2 separate regions of the Homo sapiens genome follow, and region 2 is linked to region 1. The links come from fine-mapping of genetic effects on gene expression. A gene starts in region 1. The other region holds a variant in brackets. All regions are shown on one strand. Distances are between the middles of the regions. Region 1 holds the start of MAP6D1 (MAP6 domain containing 1). Region 2 overlaps PARL (presenilin associated rhomboid like).

The links.
Region 2: its variant is fine-mapped to the expression of MAP6D1 in whole blood (TOPMed, PIP 0.97).

Annotation. Positions count from the first base shown.
Region 1 is chr3:183,819,052-183,829,257 of GRCh38, reverse strand. It overlaps MAP6D1 (MAP6 domain containing 1), which reads left to right and starts at 3,681. Exons shown (of 3, transcript NM_024871.4): 1 at 3,681-4,111. The coding sequence starts at 3,711. It also overlaps a transcript of PARL not described here. RefSeq lists silencers at 3,474-3,823, 3,884-3,953, 3,974-4,103.
Region 2 is chr3:183,873,261-183,883,466 of GRCh38, reverse strand. The region is part of intron 1 of PARL (presenilin associated rhomboid like); the gene reads left to right. Among named protein-coding and RNA genes, the nearest start is that of PARL, 6.5 kb to the left of the region's middle. The variant A/G (reference allele first, on the strand shown) is at 5,071.

The DNA of each region.
Region 1 (10,206 bases):
CTTTGGACCCTCCAGTGCCTCTGCTTAGCCTTCACTCTTCCTTGCCTCCCCCTCCCCTGGGTTGGCTGCACATAAAAGTCGAGAGTATCCCCTCTCCAGCACAATCTGAAATAACAGCTGCAGTATTTTCTCAATTTTCAGGAAAGGTAGTGTTTTCTGGCAGTGAGTGGCATATACAAAAAGCTATTTTCAGGTTTTGCTTTCTAGGTTCAATTTGTAGATAAATTAAGAGGTAGAAAGAAGTGATTTGGGTAAATTCAGACTTGAATCTGAGCCGAATTTTATCTTCTGTTTGAAAGTGTTCTAATTGAAGCGTCTCACTGAAATAGCAGATAGTGGCTGTCGTCGTCACAGCCTCACTGTTGTGGAATTCATGTTACCCTCGTGACTGAGAATGACATCTAGGAAATGCAGTTTGAGAGTATGTTCTTCTTGAAGTCATTTACAGGAGAATTTTTAGTCTTTTGATGGCTTCAAAATGTTATACCAAGTCTTGCAGCTTTGTCCTGGGAGGATCGAAGGCCCTGATTTCAGCCTCCTGTGGCCGATCGGACTCAGGTTGTGTGCCGTGGGGGATGGGAATGGCGGCTTTGGAAAAGGAGTGGGAGTGGTGCCCACCTCACCAGGCAAGTGAGAACTGCATGGCAGCACGCGCCCAGCACATAGAAATTGTCCAGTATTTGGCAGTCCTTCATATCCTTCTTCCATCAGGCTGGACTTGTTTCTACTATGATTTACAGTTATTCTTCCCAGGCACAGGATTCTGTTCTAAACTCGTATCACTTCTAGGGGAGAGAGTTATCTTAGCCATCATTTTGCCAGCGAGGAAACGGCACACGTGGTGTAGGGGCACTGCCCAAGGTCACAATGCTTTGCTCTGACATCTGCTAACAACTCTGCAACACAGATGAGGCAAGATGCGTTTTCCAGAGATGGGATAGGAGGCTGAGTTCATAGGGACATTCCCTCTAGAGCCCAACATTAATTCACATCGTGCTTTGGGCAGACCAGGCAAAGAGGCAATGAAGACATCTCTGTGTCCCTGCTTTGTGACTGGGAAAAAGTTAGAAGTCCCTGTAGCATCTCCTGGTCCCTAAAACCCCTCAATGCTGGAGCCTCTGTGCATGGCCTGGGGAGGCCAGAACCTGGCTGTGGCCGGAGAAGCCTTGCTGTCCACAGCTCCCTCCTGATTGCCCACGAGGGTGCTTCACTTTCTCCTCTTGGCTTCTCTGGGGACCCGCGATCACTGCCTTCAAGGCCATGCACTCCCTGGCCCGTGGGCCTCTTGGGCTGTGCCGCCTCCACTGGCATCTGAAGTGTGGGGTACCTAGGAACATGCCGTGGCTGCCGTCTCCCTCATTCCATACACTTCTTGAGTGGGTGCACTTGCTGAAGCCTCAGTTATCTGTGAGGATTCTGAGCTCCAGACCCACAGAATCTCTCTGTACTCTTAGTAAATGTGTCTACTGCAACACACGCATGGTTCCAGGCTCTGGGACCACCCCCCCGCCCTGCACAGGCCCCTCAAATAGCACTCGGCTTAAGGAGTGACACGAGCAATCGGTGAAGTCTGAAACCCGGAGCCATTCGAGATCTCCCTCTCTCGCCTCTTATTTCTAGAATTCAGCCCCTCAGCCTTCCCAGTGCCTGTGACTCCGTGGTGGTCCTCACTTCTTAGTCCCTGGACTGTTGAGCCTGTTCTTCCAGCTGGTCTCCAAAGCAACCCTGTGCTTCTCCATATGCCTGCCAGAGTGCTAAAAACATGTCTGTCATTCCTTTGTTGTCACCTGTGAAAAACTTTTATTTATTTGAGACAGGGTCTCTCTCTCTCTCTCTCGTCCAGGCTGGAGTTCAGTGGTGCAATCATAGCTCACTGTAGCCTTGAAGTCCTGGGCTCAAGCCTCAGCCTCCAAGTAGCTGGCACTGCAGGCACACACTACCACGCCTGGCTAATTTTTAAAAGTTTTTTGTAGAGACAGGGTCTCACTGTGTTGCCCAGGCAGTTCTCAAACTCCTGGGCTCAAGCAGTCCTCTTGCCTCAGCCTCCCAAAGTGCTGGGATTCCACGCATGAGCCATCTGCACCCGGCCATATGAAAAGCTAAAATTCCTTAGTGTGGCCACCAAGACCCTCCATGGTCTGCTACCTCAGCTGAACCCTCCTCCCCCGTGACCTACATTCCCACCTGGCCCAACCACCCTCCCTCACAACAGGTGGCGAGTCCAGCTTTCCCCAGCCTGCCTCCCTCTCATGCTGACCTGGCCTTGTCAGTTCAATTACACTTCCTTCCGTCCCTCACTACCACACTAAACCTCCTGAAGGCACCCAGAATTATTCCTAGCACATAGCAACTGCTCTTTGACTGTTGTTTGATCAATGAAGTAATAAAAAGAGAGCTGCTCTCTTTTCCTGCGAGATGGAGAATTTTAGTCCCAAGCGCCATCTGCCAGGCTGGCTAACCCAGGGCCGTGGCGGACAGTCCACAAAGAGTTCACTCTGACCCGGCCCCTGTGTGTCATTTTCCAGGATCTCCCTCTACACCTGGCGCCTCGCCTGCTGCCTGCTGGGACATGGCCTGGCCTGCTCAGCTGACCTGCTGCCACTTCTAGGCAGCCGTCATGTCACTTTGCTACAACTTCAAGCTAAGACAGGCAATGTTTTGGGAGATGAATCTGTTTTCTGACTGGCCAGGGATGTGCTGCAGTCCCCTCCCAGGCGCAGACTGGATACCTTCCAAGTACAACCTTGAAATGGAGCTCTGGGTAATTAATGCTGTCTCAGTAGTGTTATTAGTAATTGGTCTGCAGTGTATACCGAGAGCATGTGTCAAATATTCAGAAAAGCGTTTGTGGGTGGTCAGGGAGTTGTTTGAGACGGTGTCCTGCATTGAACAGACCTGCCTTTACGCTGGAGGATCCCTCAACAGCTCTGCCTGAAAACAGCCATGCATGCACAGGAGGAAAGGAACTTGATAGCCTTGTGGCCAGTTCTGTGGCCGCTTTATCAAACTAAAGCTTTTGCAAATGGCCATGCTTTAAAATTAGGAATTTCAGAACCCAGGGAAAGGTCGATTGGTGGCTAATGCCAATTCTAATGAAAAGTGGATTGGTTGTCACAAATGTAGACTAGCATCCTAAAGGCAAATAGGCGGCGACTCACAGGCTGACTGAAACACGTGTTCTCCGGGAAGCAGGGCCCCGAGTCTTCTCTGACACCCTCATTGCTGCACCTGCCCCTGTGCCCGCGGAGTCCATGCGGTGCAGCCTGGCACAAATGCAGCAGTCGCTGGGCGTCCCGAGGCCACATGGAGAACCTCCCGGCTGGCGGACTGCTCCCAGCTGCGACCATCGGGCCCTTGGCCTCTGCGAAGCCGGGGCCATTTATAAGATGACACTGAGGGAACTTTGGATTCAATTCTGAGGCATTCTTCGAGATGGACACTTGTAAATGAATGCAGGCGGTTTCCGGTGCCCCCTGGCGACGGTGCAGCCTTTCCCCCATCCGCGCTCCCTCCAGCTCCAGCCGTGCGCAGCCGGCCCCGGCCAAGTGGGGCTGCCGCCGAGTGCGCCCCCTCCCGGGACGCCCACCCTCGTGCCGGGGGGCGGTGCTGCGGCGGCGCGGGGCGGGCCGCGGGGGCGGGGACGCTGGGCGCAGGAGGCGCGGCCGGGAGCGCCGCGCGCCGGGAGCGGGGCGGCGGGCGCCGGGGCTGGCATGGCGTGGCCCTGTATCAGCCGCCTGTGCTGCCTGGCGCGGCGCTGGAACCAGCTGGACCGCTCCGACGTGGCGGTGCCGCTCACTCTGCACGGCTACTCGGACCTCGACAGCGAGGAGCCGGGCACGGGCGGCGCCGCCTCGCGCAGGGGCCAGCCTCCCGCGGGCGCCCGGGATTCCGGCCGGGACGTGCCGCTCACTCAGTACCAGCGGGACTTCGGCTTGTGGACCACGCCCGCCGGGCCCAAGGATCCGCCGCCGGGGCGCGGACCGGGGGCGGGCGGCCGCAGGGGCAAATCCTCCGCGCAGTCCTCCGCGCCACCTGCGCCCGGCGCCCGCGGGGTCTACGTGCTGCCCATCGGCGACGCGGACGCGGCTGCAGCAGTGACCACGTCGTACAGGTATGGGCTGGGTAGGGACCGCAACGAGTCCCCACCCTGTGGTGGGAGGACGCGGAGGCCCGGAGCCAGAGGGATGGGGTGGGCGGCAGAGCGGAGGCGCCTGGAGCCCGGATCCCACGCGACCTCGGAGCTGCCGGCGGCCTCAGAGGTCACCCCCGTTTGGTCCGTGGGCACTGCAGGCGGCGCCTTCGCTGCTCCATGCCCGGACTCAGTGCTCGAGCACCCCCGTGCCGGGAGCGCACCGCTGCCCTCGCAGCCGCCCTCCTGGGGGCAGCCGTCAGAATGGCCTGCCTTCAGCCGAGTTGGAACCGGCCTCCCTTTAACTCCCACCGCCGGGCCTAGCCGTGCGAGGGGTGCGCGCAGGCCATGTCCCCCAGCTCTCTCCGGTCACTGCCTAGTGTGCGGGCGTTGGTGGTGAGGACCGAGCGCAGGGTCCCGTGTGGGTGAGCCCTTCAGAGTCCCACTGTGACAGGGGCTTTCAGGGAGAACGGGTCCGCGGGCCCTCCCCACCTCCCAGCCCAGCTCTGCTCCTGGACAGCCGAGGGCTTTCTCCCTTTTTTCCTCTTACCACAAAAGTAATTCATACTGTAGAAAAATGGGAAAGTACAGAAATTACAACAAAATACGTATCTCCTTGATCCCTCCCCAGACGAGTTCTTTCTACTCCGTAATGTGCATTTGGTGCATATGCACTGATATATTTTTACGTGGTTAGATTCTTACTGTACACTTTTTTCACCAGTTGTAGAAGTCTGTCCGTGTTACTACATGTTCTGCAACATGAATTTTAATAAACGTGCAGTATTTTATCCTATGGATATGCCTTTATATCTTCAAGTTTTATTTATCTACTTCCTTACCATTGACTATTTAGGGTGTTTCTAATGTGGGACTATTAAAAGCACTACTTTTCCTTTGATGCAGCTATTTCACTACTAGGAATTTTCCCTACAGGTATCCTACAAGGTAGGGTGGGAGCTCAGGAGCGTAAGATAGGTGGAGACATTGTACAACAAACCCCTTGTCCTGCTGATGTAGGGAACTGGTTAATTATAGCACAGCCATGAAATGGGATACTGAAACCCAGCGGATCTTAAATATACGCATACCAAAAAAGCAAGGTGCCCAGCAGCACGTAGGCTATTTGTGTTTTAAAAAGGGGTATTAATATACACACATATGCTCAAATAAGCACAGGATGCCCTGATGGATGTCTGAGGAGATGGTACCGTTAGGGAGAGGAACTTGATAGGGACTGCCAGGGGTGGAAGGCTTTTCACTCTGCTCTTTTGAACGATTGCTTTTTTTGCCTTTGTAACATGTCCATGTATTGCCTATCTTTTTAACTTTTTTTTTTGGAGACGGAGTCTCGCTCTGTCACCCAGGCTGGAGTGCAGTGGTGCAATCTCGGCTCACTGCAATGTCTGCCTCCCTGGTTCCAGCAATTCTCCTGCCTCAGCCTCCCGAGTAGCTGGGATTACAGGCTTGTGCCACCATGCCCAGTTAATTTTTATTTTTATTTTTATTTTTGATTTTTTTCTTTTTTGAGACAGAGTCTCGCTCTGTCGCTCAGGCTGGAGAGCAGTGGCGCCATCTTGGCTCACTGTAACCTCCGCCTCCTAGGTTCAAGCAATTCTTCTGCCTCAGCTTCCTGAGTAGCTGGGATTATAGGTGTGTGCCATCACGCCCAGCTAATTTTTTGTATTTTTAGTAGAGATGGGGTTTCACCATGTTGGTCAGGCAGGTCTTGAACTCCTGACCTCATGATCCGCCTGCCTCGGCCTCCCAAAGTGCTGGGATTACAGGCATGAGCCACCATGCCCGGATGAGGGACTCCTTCTAAAAGCTAAGCCAGCCAGGCATGGTGGCTCACACCTGTAATCCCAGCACTTTGGGAAGCTTAGGTGGGAGGATCACTTGAGCCCAGGAGTTCAAGACCAGCCTGGGCAACATAGTGAGACCCTGCCTCTACAAAAAATAGAAAATTAGCTGGGCGTGGTGGTGCCTGCCTGTGATTCCAGCTACTTGGGAGGCTGAGGTGGGAGGATCCCTCAAGCCTGCGAGGTCGAGGCTGCAGTGAGCAGTGTTTGTGCCACTGCACTCCACCTAGGCAACAGAGCAAGACCTTGCTTCAAATAAATAAAAGCTAAGCCTCTGCTAGAACATCCCTAGTAAAGAGGAGCCCAGCGCCATGCAAGTCAGCTCGCTCCATGGGCAGACTGTTGTAACTGACAGAAAGCGCTTCCTTCCCGGAGCTGAAGCTGTCTCCCTGCAAGCTCCACCCCTTGCCCTGCTCTGGTGCCTAGAACTTCAGCCGCTGGAATGCGCTGCACGCTCAGGACCCCTGGCCTTCCAGACTCTCCGCTATTCAGGCCCCTCCAGCTGGCTAGTCTAGGGCCTGAGCGCTGCGGCTCAGTGTTGCCCACTCCAGCTTTGGCGGCTCAGCTTGAGGACGTGTCAGTGAATGCAAGACCCACCCTGCAACCACTGTCCCCCAGCGAGTTCCTTACAAAGTGCCGACCTATGAGGGAGCCTCCTCCTGGGGACATGGAATGTTCTTTGTGTCTTGATAATGGTGGTGGTACCCAAGTGGTTACATTTGTCAAAAGTCATCCAGCTGTATGTTTTTAATGGATGAATTGTATGGTTTGGAAATAATGCCTTGATACAGTTGGGTTTTTGGGGGGTTTTTTTGTTGTTGTTTGTTTTGTTGTTGTTGCTGCTGTTGCCCAGGCTGGAGTGCAGGGACATGATCTCAGTTCACTGCAGCCTCAACCTCCCAGGCTCAAGTGATTTTCTCACCTCAGCCTCCCGAGTAGCTGAGACCACAGGTGGGCACTACATGTGGGGTTTTGTGTGTGTGTGTGTGTGTGTGTGTGTGTGTGTGTGTGTGTGTGTGTGTGTGTTTTAGAGATGGGGTTTATGTTGCCCAGGCTGGTCTCAAATTCCTGGGCTCAAGCGATCCTCCTGCCTCAGCCTCCCAAAGTGCTGGAATTAAAGGCATCAGCCACTGTGCCCAGCTTGGTTTTTAAAACTAATAAAATTGGGGGGATAAGTTCATACTTTTTGGCTCTTTAATTCCACAGTTAGGAATTTATCCCAAAGAAATGATGATATGAACAAAGATTTAGCTGTAAGGATGCTTATCACAGAAGTTACTTTTTTTTTATTTTAAAGTTAAAAAGAGGCCGGTCGCAGTGGCTCACACCTGTAATCCCAGCATTTTGGGAGGCCGAGATGGACGGATCTCCTGAGGTCAGTTCAAGACCATCCTGGCCAACATGGTGAAACCCCGTCTCTACTAAAAATATAAAAATTAGGCCGGGCGTGGTGGCTCACCCCTATAACCCCAGCACTTTGGGAGGATGAGATGGGCAGATCCCAAGTTCGAGACCAGCCTGGCCAACATAGTGAAACCCCATCTCTACTAAAAATTAGCTGGGCGTGATGGCACGCACCTGTAATCCCAGCTACTCGGGAGGCTGAAGCAGGAGAATCCATTGAACCCAGGAGGTGGAGGACGCAGTGAGCCGAGATAGAGCCACTGCACTCCTGCCTGGGCAATAGAGCGAGACTCCATCTCAAAAAAAAAAAAAAAAAAAAAAGCAATCCCTCATCTGTGTGGAACATGTGGTGAGTGAATGTCCTGCCGGGCCCTCCCAGCTCTGGTGACGGTGAAGGTACTAGCTGTCGCCTTCTCTGCTTTAACGCACACCAGGCTCAGCACTCCCTGAGGTTAGCCCCCTGCAGCCTTCGTGTAGTGCTTGCCGTCCCCATTCTACAGACAAGGAAACTGAGTGGCTGGCACAGCTCTGAATGGCAGAGAAGGGAGTGGAACCCGTGTGACTTGCCCCAGAGATCAAATTTGTAGCCCCCATGGGTTTTCATCCCTTAAGAGCTGCCTCCTTGGAGTCACTTGCTTTCTTGAACTGTGTCCTGAGGCCAGCTGTGGAAAAGCCTTGACAGACAGGAGTCGGGGCTTGTTGGGGTTCTTACCTCCTGGTGTGTAAATTCAGGTGGGTCAGCCTCTCTTTTTTTCTTTTTTTTTTTTTTGAGACGGAGTCTCACTCTGTCACCAGGCTGGAGTGCAGTGGCGCCATCTCGGCTCACTGCAACCTCCGCCTCCCGGGTTCAAGCGATTCTCCTGCCTCAGCCTCCAGAGTAGCTGGGACTACAGGCGCCCACCACCACACCCAGCTAATTTTTGTATTTTTATTTTGTATTATTTATTTATTTATTTGAGATGGAGTCTTGCTTTGTTGCCCAAGCTGGAGTGCAGTGGCGCAACCTTGGCTCACTGCAACCTCCGCCTCCCGGGTTCACGCCATTCTCCTGCCTCAGCCTCCCGAGTAGCTGGGACTACAGGCGCCCGCCACCATGCCTGGCTAATTTTTATGTATTTTTTTTTTTTACTAGAGACGGGGTTTCACCGTGTTAGCCAGGATGGTCTCGATCTCCTGATCTCGTGATCCGCCCGCCCCAGCCTCCTGAAGTGCTGGGATTACAGGCATGAGCCACTGTGCCTGGCCTAATTTTTGTATTTTTAGTAGAGACGGGGTTTCACCATGTTGGCCAGGATGGTCTCGTTCTCTTGACCTCATGATCTGCCCGCCTTGCCCTCCCAAAGTGCTGAGATTACAGGCGTTAAGCCACCGCGCCTGGCTGGGTCAGCCTCTCTGACCCTTTCTTCATCCGAAAAGCAGGAATAGCAAGAGCTTGGCTGCCTGGACCCCTGCCCCCAATTCGGGCAGAAACACAGGATCACTGTTGAACTTGACCCTCCCAGCGCCATGCCAGTGGGCCTCTGGGACCCCCACCTTCCAGCTCTGGGACCTGATACAAGCCACTCCCTCCAGCCTTGTCTTGTAAGATGTACATCATCTAAGCAAACTTAAGAAATTCAGAAAGCCAAGGAAACGAACAGAGCCAGGAATCCTGAAGATGTGAGGCCACTCCTAACTCAAGGTTCTTGAGGGAGTACCCAGGATCCCCGGGCCTCAGCTTCTTCACCCCTGCAGGACCTGCCTTGCTGGCTTCTGGTCTGCACGTGAGTTGATCTGCCTTGCCTGCCTGGCCACATGGGCACAGCAGGTCCTACCCACATCCAGCCTGGCTCCTTCCACCTGACAGGCCCCCTCTGAATTCTCTCTGGGCCATTGGGCATCTTTGGCCCAGTTGCTAGCCCCGCCCACTTCTGGAAGGCAGTCCTTGCTCCCTGGTTGCTTCCCTCCTTCCTGCCTAGGTGGGGCAGTTAAAGGGCTGATATTCAAGTTCCACAAGACTTGGCCCCACTTTACTGAGTGCCCGAAACGAAGACTCACAACAGCCTCAGGCACATGGGTCAGCAGCCCCACTTTTCAGAAGAAACTGAGGCTCAGGGAAGTTGAGGAATGTGTCTGAAGCCATGTTGGGCTGAGAACCCAGGCCTCCCAATCCTCTGTCCGGGGCTGATGCCGGAACATGCTTGAGCACTGTATGGGGGCACAGCAGGCAGGGAGGCCTGTATTTCTTACTAATCTTGGCCTGAGCCATGAGTCTGTTTTCTTTCTCTCCAGGCAGTCACCGGGTCCTGCCCATTCCATCTTTAAGGTCCCCTCTCCCATCTGGGCTCCAGCCCCGGGTTCCTCCTCTGGCGGCCGCCAGGATTGCTGTCGTCTGTGGCTCTGGTGGCTTCCTGCTCTGAGACCCCTGCAGCCACCTCAGGGCAGCGGGCTCAGGATGCCAGGCCCAAGGCTCAGCGTGGGCATGTGAAGTGTTTTGGGGACAGAAGGGCGCGCCCAGGGGAGGACCTGCTTCCGCAGGAGGAACAGAGCAGCATATGGTTTGGGCAGCTGGTCTTCAGAAGCTCGCGGCTTCGGGAGTGAAAATTACCTGACGGGGCCCCGGCCTAGCTCTCCTCCTGGCACCCCAGTGCTGGCCATGGACACAGCCATTCCCTGCCCACGCAGCCTGCCCAGTGGTGCCCCAGCTTTGCAGCTGCCAAGGAGAAAGGCAGCTTTGTTGACCTCAGGGCCTGAAGCCCAACCCCGGCAGTGTCCAGCCTGGGCAGGAGCAACTCCGCACACGTGGGTGCCAGGCCCAGCTAGCTGGACACT
Region 2 (10,206 bases), 54 kb before region 1:
AAAACCCCGTCTCTACTAAAAATACAAGAAATTAGCGGGGCATGGTGGCGGGCGCCTGTAATCCCAGCTACTCGGGAGCCTGAGGCAGGAGAATGGCTTGAACCTGGGAGGCGGAGGTTGCAGTGAGCCGAGATCGTGCCATTGCACTTCATCTTGAGCAACAGAGTGAGACTCCATGTAAAATAAATAAATACTGTACGTGTATTAGGAAGCAACAGGAAGTGTGTTAAACATTTAAGATTTATGTACACATCACCGTATTGGTTTTAGGAAGGGGAAGCAAAAGAAAACTAATGAGCCTCTAGTAAAAATTGAGTATAAAGACCATTTGAAACAGTGAACCAGAAACACATGAAATGTTGAAGATTAGTATTTAATGTCTGAAAAGCTTGCCATTTGTATAGAAAGTTTGAAAATGACATTTTCGTGGTTGCATAAAAAATATACATGAGAATGTAGGCCTGAAATAGAGCATTTGCCTCTGGTAATAAGTTCTTAAAGTTAATAGTATCAGTTTACCTTATATATAACCTTTATTAGCTATATGTTGACTTCTTATGGCTTTGAAATTAGCGTGCAGAAGAATGACCCAATCCGTGTCATTTGATGTATTAATAATAGGCCTGAAGTGGGACCAGGAATTTGCATTTTACAAGCACTCTAGGTGGTGATACTAGGGTCTGAAAACTACTGCAGGCCCAAGGCGGCCCACCAGCCAAGAATGGTTTACATTTTTAAAGGATTGTAAAACAAAAATAGTAATATGTGACAGATTTCAGTAGTCCACAAAGACCGAAATATCTTCTATCTGGCCTTTTACACAAAAGGGGAAAAAAATCTTATTTGGGCTCCTTGTAAACTTTACTGTTACCAAGGTTTGAGGCTTGAAAGTGGAAACCTGTTTAATTTGCCAGTTATATGAAACTATCCAAGGGAAGAAAATAGTTGAATTGTAACACTTAACATTTTATATTTTTAAAAAACTTGCCGTTTGTATGGAAAGTTTATATTGAGATGATAGTCTCTCTCTTTCTCTCTCTCTCTCTCTCTATATATATGTGTGTGTATATGTGCATATATATGTATATATGTGTGTGTATATATGTGCATATATGTATATATGTGTGTGTATATATGTGTATATATGTGTGTATATATGTGTGTGTATATATATGTGTGTGTGTATATATATATATAAATATATATATATATATATATATAAATATATATATATATATATATATTTTTTTTTTTTTTTTTTTAGAGACATTGTCTTGCTCTGTTTCCCAGGCTGGAGTGCAGTGGCACGATCTCAGCTCACTGCAACTTCCGCCTCCCGGGTTCAAGCGATTCTCCTGCCTCAGCCTCCCGAGTAGCTGGGATTACAGGCATGCACCACCATGATGCCTAGCTAAGTTTTGTGTTTTTTGTAGAGACGGGGTTTTGCTGTGTTGGCCAGGCTGGTCTCGAACTCCTGGTCTCAAGTGATCTGCCTGCCTCTGCCTCCCAGTGTTGGGATTACAGGCTTGAGTCACCATGCCTAGCCTCAAAATATCTTTAAGTAAGATACTTGACATATTAGTCAATCGTATATATTATATTTTGTTTTAACTGACCATCTATTAACTCACGATGGGGTCAAGAAAATAATTTTGTTATGCCAGAGTTTATGTAGAATCCATCCTCCCGCCCAGTATCTTTTGTATTTTTTAGAGGCGAGTTGTTCTGTCACCTAGGTTGAAGTGCAGTGGCACTATCATAGCTCACTGCAGCCTCAAACTCCTGGGTTCAAGGGATCCCCCTGCGTCAGCCTGCCTGGTAGCAAGGACTACAGGTACACACTACCATGCCTCGGGCTCTATTTTGTTTTAAGTGGAATGAATCTAATCAATTGTGTGTGCTTAGACACATTTTGTCTCCATTTGAACATTAGGCCATTTCTACTTAATTTGTTCATACAAATCTTGAGTAACATAAACATTAACACTGACCTGTATATTTAAGTTGTATTGTCTTTACCGTTGCACTCTTAAAAACAATGCACAGGCTGGGCATAGTGGCTCACGCCTGTAATCCCAGCACTTTGGGAGGCCGAGGCGGGTGGATCACCTGAGGTCAGGAGTTCTAGACCAGCCTGGCCAACATGGTGAAAACCCGTCTCTACTAAAAATACAAAAATTAGCCAGGCACGGTGGCAGGGGCCTGTAATCCCAGCTACTCGGGGGGCCGAGGCAGGAGAATCCCTTGAACCCAGGAGGCAGAGGTTGCAGTGAGCCGAGATTGCATCACTGTACTCCAGCCTGGGGGACAAGAGCAAGACTTCATCTGAAAAAAAAAAAAAAAAATGCACAAAGGCTGTGCGGTGGCACAGGCCTGCAGTCCCAGCACTTTGGGAGGCTGAGGCAGGAAGATCACTTGAGTCTAGGAGTTTGAGACCAGCCTGGGCAATATAGGGAGACTCCTGTCTCTACAAAAAGTAAAAAAAATTAGTGGGTATGGTGGTGCTGCCTCTGGTCCCAGCCACGTGGGAGGCTAAGGGAGGAGGATTGCTTGAGGCCGGAAGGTGAAGGTTGCTGTGAGCTATGAGGGCGCCACTGTCCTCCAGCCTGAGTGAGAGAGTGCAACCCTGTCTCAAAAAAAGACCCAAAAAATAAAAAACCAAAACATTTATGAGACTGTATTGTAACTATTAGGTGAACACATATATTGGTGTAACTTTTTCTTCTTAAAAGTTATAGGATTGTATTAAAAAAAAAGTCTGAGCTGGCCAGGCACAGTGGCTCATGCCTGTAATCCCAGCACTTTGGGAGGCTGAGGTGGGTGGATCACCTGAGGTCAGGAGTTCGAGACCACCCTGGCCAACGTGGTGAAACCCCCTCTCTACTAAAAACACAAAAATTAGCCAGGTGTGGTGGCAGGCGCCTGTAATCTCAGCTACTTGGGAGGCTGAGGAAGGAGAATCGCCTGAACCCGGGAAGCGGAGGTTGCAGTGAGCCGAGATCACGGCATTACACTCCAACCTGGGCAGCAGGAGCAAAACTGTGTCTTAAAAACGGAAAAAAAAAAACTGAACTATAACTGTGGCTGGTGGCAACTTAAGTATTCATGACATCCTCCCACTTTGAGCACATTTGATTGCTTCCCCAAATCACTAGTTCCTGGCAGAAGGACCAAAGCAGCAGAGTCAAGGCAGGCCTGCTGTCGTGAGTTGTCATATGCCTCAAGGGACCCTCTTTCCCATCCCCATCCATTTTATTGCGGCGCTTCACTTTGTTTTCCAACTTATTCAGGTAAGTAATTTATTTCCCTGTCTTATATACCCATCTGATTGGGAAGAGGTGAATAACCTAAACCTGTGAATAAGATAGCAAACATTTGCAATTAGGGACATTTATCATGCTTTTGCTTGTTTCACACTTTAAGAAATTTAAGGCTGGGTGCAGTGGCTCACTCCTGTAATCCTTTGGGAGCACTTTGGGAGGCCGAGGCAGGCAGATCACCTGAGGTCAGGAGTTCGAGACCAGCCTGGCCAATATGGCGAAACCCTGTCTCTACTAAAAATACAAAAAAAAAAAAAAAAAAAAAAATCAGTCCTGGTGGCAGGCATCTGTAATCCCAGCTACTTGGGAGGCTGAGGCAGGGGAATCACTTGAACTCTAGAGGCGAAGGTTGCAGTGAGTTGAGATGGTGCCACTGCACTCCAGCCTGGGTGACAGAGCGAGGACCTCCCCCCGCCCACCAAAAAAAGGAAATTTAAAATGAAAGCTCATTAAAAAGAGAAAATGTACCTTATATAATATGTAATAAACATACTACATCTAAAAGCATCCTTATTCCAATAGAAAACCAAACTCTTAACTGACCTAAACAATTAGGGGAATTTATTGGTTTATGAAGTTCAAAAGTGTAGAGGTAGGACTGGCTTCTAGCGAGACAAGTCCAGTGTCTCAAATTGTCACCAGACACCATTTTCTCCATGGCTTGTCTCTGTTTCCTAAATGTTGGCTTTATTCTCTCAGCATGCTATCTCCTTGTGGTTATAAGATGGCTGCCAGCAGCTCTTGGGGCTATATATTTTTAGGTGCAAATCTAGCAGAAAAAAAAGTTGTCTTCTCCGTTATCACAAACAAAATCTTGAAATTGAATTTCACTGGACCAGATTGGCCTAACTTGGGACAGGTGCCCATCCTTGAATCCCTTGAAGTTGCCAAGGAATGGGATGTGAAATTTGGCTTAAGCCAATCGTGGGCTTGGTGTGTCTCATCAAATGAAATGGCTGGAAATTCTAGAGTATGGTTTGGAAAAGGAGAAGAGGGCATGGATGCTGGGAGTAAGTCGTAGTGAAACATTTGTATTGGAATTCTTTATTTGGTTACCTAGATAGGATTAATCTGTGGGACAACAAACCATTCTAATTTAAGTACAAGTATTGTTGGAAGAGTGAGGAATCAGGTTCTAGCTCCTTGCTATTCCAAGTGGTTCATGAACTAGCAGTTTGGGTATCATCTAGGACAGGGGTTTGGCAAACTTAGTTTGTAAAAGGTCAGATAGAAAATATGGCCGCATGTGGTCTTTGTCGCATATTCTTTCTCTTTCTTTTTAAACAACTCTTTAAACGTGTGAAAACCATTCTTAGTTGGAGACTCAAATCCACTCTATAGGCCGCAGTTTGACAACCCCTAATTTAGGCGCTTGTTTAGATATGCAAAATCTCAGACTCACCTTGCCCCAGACCTACTAAATTACAATGTTTTTAATGAGATTTCCAGGTGATTTGTATGTAAACTAAAGTTTCCCCAAACCTGTGGTATGAATAGATCTTGACTCTGGCGGCACATGAGAATCACCTGGGGAGGTCTTACAACTACTAAGGCCTTGGGTCCACTCCTAGACATTCTCATTTGTTATGAGGTAGAGCCATGGTGTAGGACTTTTAAGAGCTCACCAGGCAGTTCTAATGTATAGCCAGAATTGAGAATTACTGCTCTAGACTAGGAAGCATAACTGCCTCTGCCACATCTAGTGTGGTAGATAAAACACCATGGCCACAATATTTTGTAGTTCTTATCC[A/G]AAGCTGGAGTCAACTTCCCTATTCCTTGCAGCTGGGTTGGACTTGCGGCTTAGTTTGATCGGTAGCATGTGGTGGAAGTAATATTGTGCAAGGTCCAGAGTCGGCCTCAGAAGACCTTGCAGCTTTTGCCTTTGCCCACTTGGAACACTCCCTCTGTCATGGTAGAAGCCCCCGCTAGACTACTGAACACCAAGGACTGGGCGGTGAAAGAGCAAGCAGACAACAACCAGCACTAAGGCTCCAGGTACGAGTGAAGCCATCTGAGACTCTCCAGCTCTGATTAAGCAGTCAAGAGTACTGGCTGGGGCTGGGCGCGGTGGCTCACGCCTGTAATCCCAGCACTTTGGGAGACCAAGGCGGGTGGATCACTTGAGCTCAGGAGTTCGAGACCGGCCTGACCAATATGATGAAACCCCATCTCTACTAAAAATACAAAAATTAGCCAGGTGTGCTGGTGTGTGCCTGGAGTCCCAGCTACTCAGGAGGCTGAGACAGGAGAATTGCTTGTACCTGGGAGGTGGAGATTGCAGTGAGCCGAGATCATGCCACTGCGCTCCAGCCTGGGTGACACTGTCTCAAAAAAAAAAAAAAGTAATAAATTATGGTTTTAAGCCAGTGCATTTTAGAGTGGTTTGTTAAGATGTAGATACCTTAATTTTAAAATGCTTTATTACTAAAAAATTCTAATAATCATCTGAGCCTGCAGTGAGTCATAATCTTTTTGCTGGTGGAGGGTCTTGCCTCTGTTGATGGCTGTGGACTGATCAGAGTGGCGGTTACTGAAGGTTGGGGTAGCGGTGGCAATTTCTTAAAATAAGACAACATGAAGTTCGCCACGTTGATTGACTCCTCCTTTCACAAAAGATTTCTCAGTAGCATGTGATGCTGTCTGATAGCATTTTATCCACAGTAGAACTTCTTTCAGAGTAGGAGTAAATCCTCTCAAACCGTGCTGCTGCTTTATCAGCTAGGTTTATGTAATCTAAATCCTTTGTTGTCATTTCAACAGTGTCCACAGTGTCTTCACCAGGAGTAGATTCCATCTCAAGAAACCACTTCCTTTGCTCATCCATAAGAAACAACTTCTCATCTGTTCAAGTTTGATCATGAGATTGCAGCAATTCAATCACATCTTCAGGCTCCACTTCTAATTCTAGTTCTCTTGCTCTTTCTTTTTTTTCGAGATGGAGTTTCACTCCTGTCACCCAGACTGAAGTGCAATGGCACGATCTTGGCTCACTGCAACCTCTGCCTCCTTAGTTCAAGCGATTCTCCTGCCTCAGCCTCCTGAGTAGCTGGGATTACAGGCACCCACCACCATGCCCAGTTAATTTTTTTGAATTTTTAATAAAGATGAGGTTTCACCATGTTGGCCAGGCTGGTCTCGAACTCCTGACCTCAGGTGATCCGCCCGCCTCGGCCTCCCAGGGTACTGGGATTACAGGCATGAGCCACTGCACCCAGCCTCTAGTTCTCTTTCTATTTCTACCGCATCTGCAGTTACTTCCTCCACTCAAGTCTTGAGCCCCTCAAAGTCATACTTGAGTGTTGTAATCAACTTCTTCTAAACTGTTAATGTTGGTATTTTGACCTCCTCTCATGAATCATGAGTGTTCCCGATGACATCTAGAATGGTAGATCCTTTCCAGAAGCTTTTCAGTTTACCTTGCCCAGATCCATCAGAAAAATCACTCTGTGGCTATTGCCTTACAAAATATATTTCTTTTTCTTTCTTTCTTTCTTTCTTTTTCTTTTTCTTTTTTTTTTTTTTTTTTTTTTTTTTTTACAAAATGTATTTCTTAGGGGAATAAAAAAAGAAAATATATTTCTTAAATAATAAGACTTAAACGTTGAAATTCCTGCTTGATGTATGTGGTTGCAGAATGGACATTGTGTTAGCAGGCATGAAAACAATATTCATCTTCTTGTACCTGTGCATCTGAGCTCTTGGGTGACCAGATACATTGTCGATGAACAGTAGTATTTTGAAAGGAATCTTTTTTTCTCAGCATTTGGTCGCAACATTGGGCTTAAAATATTTGGTAAACCGTTTGGGCACAGTGGATTGCGCCTATAATACCAGCACTGTGGGAGGCCAACACGGGCGGATCGCCTGAGATCAGGAGTTCAAGACCACCCTGGCCAACACGGTGAAACCCCATCTCTACTAAAAACACAAAAATTAGCCGGACATGATGGCAGGCGCCTGTGATCCCAGCTGCTCGGAGGGTTGAGGCAGGAGAACTGCTTGAACCTGGGAGGCGGAGGTTGTAGTGAGCTGAGATAGTGCCACTGTACTTCCAGCCTGGGCGACAGAGTGAGACTCCATCTCAAAAAGTAAAAATAAACAAATAAAAAATATTCCATAAACGATGCTGTAAACAGGAGTGCTGTAATCTAGGCTTTGTTGTTCGATTTGTAGAGCACGGGCAGAGTAGTTTACCATCATTCTTAAGGGTTCTAGGATTCTCAGAATGGTAAATGAGCATTGGCTTCAACTTAGTCACCAACAGCATTAGTGCCTAATGAAGTCAGCCTGTCCTTTGAAGCTTTGAAGCCAGGCATTGCCTCCTCACCTGTAGCTATGAAAGTCTTAGATGGCATCTTCTTCCAATAGAAGGCTGTTTTGTCTGCTTTGCAAATCTGTTTAGTGTAGCCACCTTCATCTTAGGATCTTCTTGATAAGTTGCTGCAGTTTCTACATCCACACTTGCTGCTTCAAGTTGTACTTGTGTGTTATAGAGACAGCTTGTTTCCTTAAACCTCATGAACCAACCTCTGCTAGCTTCAGACTTTTTTCCTGCAGCTTCCTCAATTCTTTCAGCCTTCATAGAATTGAAGGAGTTAGTCTTGCTCTAGATTGGCTGTGGCTTAAGGGAATGTTGTGGCTGATTTGATCTTCTATTCATGTAATTTTTTCCATGTTGGCAATAAGGCTGTTTTGCTTTCTTACTCTATTTTTTTTTTTTTTTTTTTTTTTGGAGACAGAGTCTTGCTCTGTCGCCCAGGCTGGAGTGCAGTGGCACAATCTCAGCTCACTGCAGCCTCCATCTCCCAGGTTCAAGCGATTCTCCTGCCTCAACCTCCCCAGTGGCTGGGATTACAGTCGCCCGCCACCACGCCCAGGTAATTCTTGTATTTTTAGTAGAGATGGAGTTTCACATTGTTGGCCAGGCTGGTCTCGAACTCCTGACCTCAGTTGATCCTCTCGTCTTGGTCTCCCAAAGTTCTAGGATTACAGATGGGAGCCACCACACCCAGCCTACTATTTTTCTCTTCTCAGGAGTAGCACTTAAAATTTCCTTCAGTAGTTTTGCTGTTGTTGATACAGAGTCTAGTTCTGTCATCCAGGTTGGAGTGCAGCAATGCATTTGTAGCTCACTGCAACCTTGACCTCCTGGGCTCAAGTGATCTTCCTGCCTCAGCCTCCCAAGTAGCTAGTACTATAGGCGCAAGCCACCACACTTGGCTAATTTTTAAATTTTTTATAGAGACAGGATCTCACTATGGTGCCCAGGTTGGTTTCAAACTCCTGAACTCAAGTGATCTTCCTGCCTTAGCTTCCCAAAGTGCTGGGGTTACAGCTGTGAGCCACCATGTCTGGCAAGAATTGTTTCTTTGTATTTACAAGTTGGCTATTTGTGCCAGAGGCTTAGCTCCTGGCCTATCTCAGCTTTTGACATGCCTTCTTCACTAAGCTTAATTATTTCTAATTGGCTGGGCACTTTGGGAGGCCGAAGCGGGAGGATCACGTGAGGTTTGAGTTCGAGACCAGCCTGGCCAACATGGCGAAACCCCATCTCTGCTAAAAATACAAAAATCAGCTCGGTGTGGTGGCAGGTGCTTGTAGTCCCAGCTACTTGGGAGGCTGAGGCAGGAGAATCGCTTGCACCCGAGAGGTGGAGGTTGCAGTGAGTCGAGATCGCGCCACTGCACTGCAGCCTGGGTGATAGAGCAAAACTCCATCTCAAAAAAAAAAAAAAAGATTATTTCTAATGATTTCAAGCCAGAGACATGTGACTGTTCCTTTCAGCTTGAACACTTAGCGGTGATTGTAGGGTTATTAATTGACCAGTGTCAATATTGTTGTGTTCCAAGGAATAGGGGGGTCCAAAGAGAGGGAAAGGTGGGCAATGGCTGGTTGGTAGAGCAGTCAGAACCTACACAACATTATTAAGTTCATTGTCTCATGGTTCATGGCACCCAAAACAATTTCAGTAGTAACATCAAAGGTCACTGATCACAAATCACCATAACAGATAAGAAAAAATTGAAGTGTTGTGAGAATTACGGAAATGTGACACAGAGCCACCAAGTGAGCGCATGCTGTTGGAAAAATGGTGCCAAAAGACATGCTAGATGTATGGTTGCCACAAACCTTCAATTTGTGTAACAAACTTGGGATATCTGTGAAGTACAATAAATCGAGGTATGCCTGTGTGTGATGTATTCAGTATGTGTACCTACTGATAAGTTCTGAACTTAACCCTGGGGCCAGCTTGTGTAATGTACTCTTAATGTCCTCAGCTTGATGCACACTTCTGGTGAGATCCTCGAGGTATATATTTTAGGCAAAAAGGTCTGGCTTTGCCTCAAGTCCAGATTCCCAACCTAGCGTGTTTATGTTCCTTTTAAAACTTGTGCTTCAAAATTTTAAGTGAATTGGTGACAGGTAGAAGTAGTTTTTTATTAGAATTGATTGTGTAGTATTAAGCTGTTGGAAATACAAATCCTTTGTATTTCTTATCCTTTGTATTTCTCAGTCCAGTACATGACAAATGCTAGGAACCAAGATTACTGGGTTACAACTTGCCATCTTTAATTAATTAATTAATTTTTTTTTTTTTGAGACGGAGTCTTGCTCTGTCACTCAGGAGCTCTCACACTGGAGTGCAATGGCGTGATCTCGCCTCACTGCAACCTCTGCCTCCTGGGTTCTAGAGAGTCTCCTGCCTTAGCTTCCTGAGTAGCTGGGATTACAGGCATGTGCCACCACGCCTGTAATCAAAATACAGGCGTGCGCCACCACGCCCAGCTAAGTTTTGTATTTTTAGCAGAGATGGAGTTTCACCATGTTGGCCAAGCTGGTCTCGAACTCTTGACCTCAGGTGATCCTCCCACCCCAGCCTCCCAAA